Homo sapiens: one gene and its partner. The protein of the gene in region 1 purifies or fractionates together with the protein of each later gene. This does not show direct contact. Each region holds a gene or a part of one and is shown in the gene's direction. Other genes may lie near its edges.

Region 1 (3,820 bases):
TTTTGGCGCCTCCTTAAGTTTTGCATGGGGGCAAGTGTCTCCCTCACCTCACCCTAGTTGGTCCTGGGTGAGCCGGACACCACGGGAGGCACAACAGGAAACCACTGTGCGTGAGTCAGCATGTCTGCTCCATGTGGCAGGGACCAGCCAAGGATATGGCAGGTGTCAATAAACCATGGACCCCCCATCTCATTCCCCACCTTCAGCTCTCCTTTCCATAGGAGGTTGAGCTGGAAAGAGGCCCCTGCCCTGCCTGCCCTGGCCCAGGCCCACCCCCAGGGCAGCTGCGACTGTCCCTGTGTCTGTTGACAGTCACAGTGCTGTGGCTCTGCTGCAGAAGCATACTCTCTTGTCTTTCCAGGAGACTCACTCAGTGGCTCTTAAGGTGGCTCCTCTAAGGCAGCCTTGCTGGCTTTTGGCTCCAGGGATAGAGGCTCCATGGCTGGGCTCCATCTTGCTAAAGGGCCTCTTCCCCAGCCTCCTCCAAGTGCTCTGATGTACCACCCCCATCATCTCGCGGAGGCCATCTCCTGGTCTGTTCTTGTGTTTCCTTTCATTCCTCTGATGCCATCTCTTCTTGCATCAACTGGGATGCTCCCCCTACCCTGCCTCTTTTTTTTTTTTTTTTTTGAGTCAGGGTCTCCCTGTGTCCTAGGCTGGAGTGCAGTACTGCGATCATGGCTCACTGGAGCCTTGACCTCCTGGGTTCAAACTGGACCCCCAGCTCCAGCCCTGCTCTGGACACAGCAGAAAGAAATATTTCCCAGCCCCGTCTTGTTATTCCTATCCACCTGGGACCTGCTTGGAAGCTTGGAATGTGCCTTCCCTGCCCCAGTCCATGCTAAATGTTCTGGCCCCTTCCATCTCCAACATCTCCCTTGGACTGGACCTGAGCTCAGCACAGCCTTCTCTGACCCCTGCTCATGTGGTGACACGTTCGAGCCTGGCCTTTGTTCTGGAGGCAGTGGAGGGGCAGCCGAGTGTGGCAGCACTGACGATGCTGGTTAGACGTAAGGAAGCCTAGGACCCAGGGTGTCTTGGGCACAAATTTGCTGTGACACCCTGGGCAAAACCTTTCCCTCTGAGCCTCACTTTCCCCATAGCAGCTCAAGGGAGCTGGTTTTCTCAGTCCCTTCCAGCTCTAACATGAATAGAAATCTGTGGTCTGGAGCATTTTGCACGCGCTCAGCAAAACTGTGATGTCATGGAGCACACACCCACAGACTTTTCTGCTCACAGGAGGATTGTAGATGCTCTGTGGAGCACCTAAATCACAGCAGGGACAGTCTGTGAGGCGCCAAGAGAGAGTCCTCCCCACAGCCTCCATGTTACTGATCATGGCATTCCAGCAATTAACAGGGTCAGGGGGCAGTCCACTAGCCACCAGCCCTGCCCTGAGAATGCGCAAACCTGAGACCAAGGCTCCTGCCCCCAGCCCAGAGCAGGCAGACTTACATCTTCTCAAACTAGACAGTCTAGTATTGATTCTTCTCCCCGCTTAATCCATGGGAAGGAATTCCCAGACTTTCCCACCAGTTGCAGAGCAGCTTTACAATAATTTGATCCAAACTGATCATCTCCTGGTTTTATATCCTGTGGCATATCCCTTGATCCCAGGTTTTGCTGACACCACAGCAAGGGATTGGAGGGCGTGTGTGTACACGCGTGCGTGTGTGTGTGTATGCATGTACCTGTATGTGTGTGCACATGCATGTGTGTGCGTGTGTGTGTGCGCGCGTGTGTGTAGATACCCACATCTGGAGAAACAGAACCAGAGAAACTCTGTCCACAGCTGAGGGAAGAAGTCACATTTCCTGGCAAAGAATGTGTTCATGGAGGGTAAATTTCGAGGTCAGGCTCAGCTCTGTCATGGACAGCCTGGGGGCTCTGGACAAGTGTGCAGCCTCCCAGGGCCTCGCTTTCTTCTGTGGGGAGGCACTCACAAGGCGCTCCAGTGAGAGGGGCCATGGGTATCCCTCTCCCCTGACAGTCCTTCCCTCCGGAGCTGGATCCGAGCATTGGGTCCCAGGACCTCATCACTATCCTCTGTCTCCCCATAGATTCCTCTTCTCCTGTAAATGACCACAGAGGAAGACAATGAATGAGGTGAAAGAATCCCTTCGCAGCATCGAGCAGAAGTACAAGCTCTTCCAGCAGCAGCAGCTCACCTTCACCGCCGCTCTGGAGCACTGCAGGGAGAACGCCCACGACAAGATCCGGCCCATCTCCAGCATTGGACAGGTGGGGCTCCCGACCCCCACCCCGGCCGAGGGGCAACAAGCCCAGTCCCCTCTCACAAAAGATGAAACCACTGGGGCCCAGAGAGGGGAAGGACGTTTGCGCCAGAATTAGGACCCGGACCCAGAACCTAAATGATGTAATGAGTCCTTCATTCGTTTCTCTACCAAATATGTAAGTGAATAACAACAAGTGAATAAAGAGGCAGGTTTAAAACTCAGCCGGCCAGGGCTTAAGTCCTAGCTCTACCATGTGCCACTGCTGTGATCTCAGGCCAATGACTTCACCTTTCTGTGCCTCAGTGTCCTCATCTGTGACGCAGGTTCAGTGGTCACCCATAGAAAACCAGGGATTTACTGGTGACCAGAGGGATCCTGTCCTTCCCATCAGATTCCACTGGGGGTTGAGGAACTGTGGGATGCCAAGCACACCGCCAGGTGCTTTCGCAGATGTTTTTATTTAACCTGCATCTCCTCCAGGGTTAGCTGCTGTCCAGGTTTGCTGTGCAGGACTTGGAGGCCTCAAGACCAAATGATCCTTCCAGGATGTTAGGGGCTGGAGCTGCAGTGCAGTTAGGAACACACACAGGCCGGCCCTTCACAGCTTGGAGGGAGTCAGCTTGTGGAAGGGTAACTGCCCCAAGATGGGTGGGAACAGGCGCAGGGCTCAGAACTGCAGAGGAGAAACAGGCTCGGGAGGAACAAGCAACCCTTGCTGGCAGCATCCTTTAAAAACATTTTTTTCTGGCCAGGCGTGGTGGCTCATGCCTGTAATCCCAGCACTTTGGGAGGCCGAGGCAGGTGGATCATGAGGTCAGGAGTTTGAGACCAGCCTGACCAACATGGTGAAACCCTGTCTCTACTAAAAATACAAAAATAGCTGGGCGTGGTGGTGCGCATCTGTAATCCCAGCTACTCGGGAGGCTGAGGCAGGAGAATTGCTTGAATCTGGGAGGTGGAGGTTGCAGTGAGCCGATATTGCGCCACTGTACTCCAGCCTGGGCGACAGAGTGAGACTCCGTCTCAAAAACAAAACAAAACAAAACAAAAACAAAAACAAAAAAATGAAAAAAAACACTTTTTTTTTCTAATTTTGGTAAAATGTTTCCTCAATTTTTTAACTCAAAAAAATGTTAAATATAGAGGCCAGACACAGCGGCTCATGCCGGTAATCCCAGCACTTTGAGAGGCCGAGGTGAGTGGATCACCTGAGGCCAGGAGTGGAGACCAGCCTGGCCAACATGGTGAAACCCCATCTTTACTAAAAATCCCAAAATTAGCCAGTTGTGGTGGTACGCGCCTGTAGTCCCAGTGACTCGGGAGGCTGAGGCATGAGAATCACATGAACCCTGGAGGCAGAAGCTGCAGTGAGCCGAGATCGCACCACTGCACTCCAGCCTGGGTGACACAGCAAGACCCTGTCTCAAAAAAAAAAAAAAAAAAAAAAAGTTAAATGTACAGAAAAGGAGCACCCATATAACCCTCACCCAGATTCACCGACTTGTGACATTTAGCCAATTTAGCCATATTTGCCCACGCATGCAGCCCCTGAGCTATTGGAAAATAAACTTCCTCTTCTGTAA
Region 2 (3,820 bases), on another chromosome or scaffold:
TCAACATGGTGAAACCCTGTGTCTACTAAAAATACAAAAGTTAGCTGGGCATTGGTGGCAGGTGCCTGTAATTGCAGCTACTTGGGAGGCAGGGGCCAGGCGTGGTGGCTCATGCCTGTAATCCCAGCACTTTGAGGGGCCAAGGTGGGCAGATCACTTGAGGTCAGGAGTTCAAGACCAGCCTGGTCAGCATGGTGAAACCCTGTCTCTACTAAAAATAACAAAAATTAGCCGGGTGTGGTGGCAGGTGCCTGTAAGCACAAGCTACTCGGGGTGCTGAGGCAGAAGAATGGCTTGAACCTGGGAGGTGGAGGTTGCATTGAGCCGAGATCGTGCCACTGCACTCCAGCCTTTGGCTACAGAGTAAGACTCCATTTCAAAATAAAAGAAAAGGAAAAGAAGAAAACTAACAGAGGAACAGAAAACCAAATACCGTATGTTCTGACTTATAAGTGGGAGCCAAATGATGAAAACACATGGACACATAGAGGGGAAAAACACACACTAAAAGGAGGGAGAAGGAGAGGATCAGGAAAAATAAATAATGGGTACTAGGTTTAATACCTGGGTGATGAAATAATCCGTATATCAAACCCCCATGACTGAAGTTTATCTGTGTAACAAATCTGCACATGTACTCATGAACTTAAAAGTTAAAAAATAAGTCCAGGAAAAAAAAGAAAATGATGTAATTGGAATCCTGAAACTTTACAGGAGTGTCATCTGAATTTCATCTGATTTCCAAATTGTAAACTGCTGACCTGCAACCAAAGGCCACATGTTGTTCTGCCCTGATGACAGTTCAAAAGCTATGGCCATTTTATAAAAGAGGTTTATAGAGGCTTCTAAAATAGCTTTGACCTGAAGGAAGCGGAACTTTTGTGATCTCTCACTTTTTAAAGCAGGGATCAGCAAACTTTATGTGAAGAGAAAAATACTACATATTTAGATTTCACAGGCTGTATTTTTATCTCTACTGTGTAGCATGAAAGCAGCTACAGGAGATACATAAGTGAATGATCCTGGTTGCATACCGGTAAAACTTTATTTACAAAGATGAGTGGCAATGTGGGTATTTGCCCACAGGCAGTGGTTTGCCAGTTGTTGCTTTAGAGGAATGAAAGTATGGAATTAATTGTTTTAAAGAGTGTACATTGATACAGAATACATAAAGTAATATCTATATAAAAAGCTAAATTAAAATAATTAAAAGACTTGTTTTTTTCTAAGTTACTTAGTATATGTACAATAGTTTATAAGTTGTCTTTTATGTTTTACAGGCTTCACAGTTTGGCTTTTTAACTTTTGTGTTTTTTCAGAAAAAATCTTCTAGAGGAAATACTCAAGCAACTAGTCATTCTTTTGATGTCAGAGTGCTAACGCAGTTGGTAAATATTTTAAAATAACACTTAAAATATTTATTAGCATAACCATAATGAAACTGTTTCTGTTTTTATTTTTCTCATTAGAGAATAAAAGGATTTTAGAGCTGTAAGAGACTGTATGAAATGGCTGGTTATAGGAAGGTTATTCCCAAGAAACATCATTTTAATAAAACCTGTTTGGGTTTTTTGCCTCAAGGATATTAAAATTTTAACATCAATAGATAGCAGTTTAAAAAAATATGTACACATACATGCATACATATACATGTATGTATGTGTACATATTTTGGGTTGTAGCTTTTATAGTTAAAGTTGCAATTTTAACAACTTAAAAGATGTGTACACAGAGGTGCAAAGAGTTGTCATATGCTTATTTTGAAGTAGATTAATTAGATTTATACCCCCTGATTTGATAAAAATCACAAAGTATTAATTAGCAAGTTTTATATTTATGTATGGTTGCTTTAATTTACACGTCTTTTCGAAAATTTAAAAGTTGGATATCTTAAAGAATAAAAAGTTAAAGCCACTAATTATTCCTAAAAATACATACCTTTGATTTTAATCCTACTTGAAATTATCCTAAAGAACAGACAAGGGTATAAAATAGCAAACGCGTGTTTGTAGGAAACTTTATTTCAATATTATACTGGATTTTGAAACAGAAATACTCTCAGGACTTGTGTTTTTTTGAACTGAATAGAATAGAATTAAAAGCAATTTGGCATTTGAGGATGTTTTAGTTTCTTCTTTTTCTGTGTGTAGCAATAGCGCATTAGTAAATTGTCTTTGGGCCTATGCCACTCAATGTGAGTTCTCAATTTCATTTTTCAATACCTTAGAGGTATTTTAGTCTCTGATTTTCTACTTTGTCTTGATTTTAGAAGTGTCCTTTGTTTTGAGGCTGGCTATTCCACTACTTATGTGCTTTTCACTAGTTAGGCTTACTTCATGGTTTATTAAACAATTTGGTTAAGATTATTTTATTAGTAGTATAAAATTGTAGTTGGGAGATGTATAGAGTGTGGGAATATAGAGAGATGAGTGGAAGATAATCTCATGAGATAATTTATTGTAGTAGTAATATTATTGTTATTTTTGAGACGGAGTCTCGCTCTGTCTCCCAGGCTGGAGTGCAGTGGTGCGATCTCGGCTCACTGCAAGCTCTGCCTCCTGGGTTCACGCCATTCTCCTGCCTCAGCCTCCTGAGTAGCTGGGACTACAGGCGCCTGCCACCACACCTGGCTAATTTTTTGTATTTTTAGTAGAGACGGGTTTCACTGTGTTAGCCAGGGTGGTCTCAATCTCCTGACCATATGATCCGCCTGCCTCGGCCTCCCAAAGTGCTGGGATTACAGGCGTGAGCCACCGCGCCTGGCCAGGTGTAGTAATAATATTATATAGTATAATATATTTTTGGTAGTCACTCCACCGATCACCTAACTGGAAATTTTGAAGTGACTAATATACAGTAAGTAGTCAGTAAGTATTTATTGCCACTTTTCTCCCAGTTAAGTCTTATTGATTCCTTATTTGTAGTATTAAGCTTTTCTTTTATTTTCCATACAGTCCTGCTGTCATTAGCCTTACAACAGTATTATTTTACCTAAACTAGCACAAGTAGCCCTTAACTGGTCTCTCTTCATCTATACATTCTTGTCCAAAGTGATTGTTTCTCTAAATCCCTTCTACCTTTGTTAGTATATCTCTTGAAATACTTTCCATTTATCTACTCTATCCTGTTTATACACTCAGATGATCATTTCTGAATCATAGTTTATGTTCAGTTATTAATTTTTTTCAAGAAGTATTTATTGAGTTTGTACAACAGCCGGACACTGATTATGGTACTCCTTGCTCAAAATTTCTTAAGTGTTCTGTACTGACTAGTTAGAGAAGTCCAACTCAGGGTTCTTCATAGCCTCAGCATACCTTTTTGTTCTTATTTTCTACCTCTTATTTTCTAGATGTATGCTTGCCATACCTTTAAAGCTCTGTATTTCCTGAACTATGTATCATGTCTTTGCTCTTTTCTCTGTCACCCAAACTGTCAAAATCCTATCTGTACATTAAGATCTAGCCCAAATGCCACTACTTGTGTAAGATTTCATTTGGTTCCCATAGAAATGGGGATCTTCTCTTTTTCAAATGCCATGTCAGCATCATAGAAGTTCCCTCACCTATAGGCTGTTTGGCAGCCAGGTTATTCCTAAGTCCAAATAACCAAGAGGAGTTTACATTTGTAGACCCCAACTGGTCTACATTTCCACCTAAAAGGAATGAGTCAGACCTTACATTCTTTAAAACTTTTCCTGGCTGAGCATGGTAGCTCATGCCTGTAATCCCAGCACTTTGGGAGGCCTAGGCAGGGTGATCGCTTGAGCCTAGGAGTTCAAGATGAGTCTGAGCAACAAGTGAAACCCTGTCTCTACAAA

The links.
Region 2: the proteins of SPACA9 (region 1) and ODR4 purify together in Homo sapiens (affinity purification with mass spectrometry; one large-scale study listed by BioGRID and IntAct). This does not show direct contact.

Annotation. Positions count from the first base shown.
Region 1 is NC_000009.12:132,881,851-132,885,670, forward strand, and holds part of SPACA9 (sperm acrosome-associated protein 9), read left to right. Parts: intron 1-2,060; 5' UTR 2,061-2,097; coding exon 2,098-2,241; intron 2,242-3,820. UniProt on the Homo sapiens protein: Microtubule inner protein (MIP) part of the dynein-decorated doublet microtubules (DMTs) of multiciliated respiratory cells and the distal singlet microtubules of monoflagellated spermatozoa.
Region 2 is NC_000001.11:186,392,628-186,396,447, forward strand, and holds part of ODR4 (protein odr-4 homolog), read left to right. Parts: intron 1-1,319; coding exon 1,320-1,388; intron 1,389-3,820. UniProt on the Homo sapiens protein: May play a role in the trafficking of a subset of G-protein coupled receptors.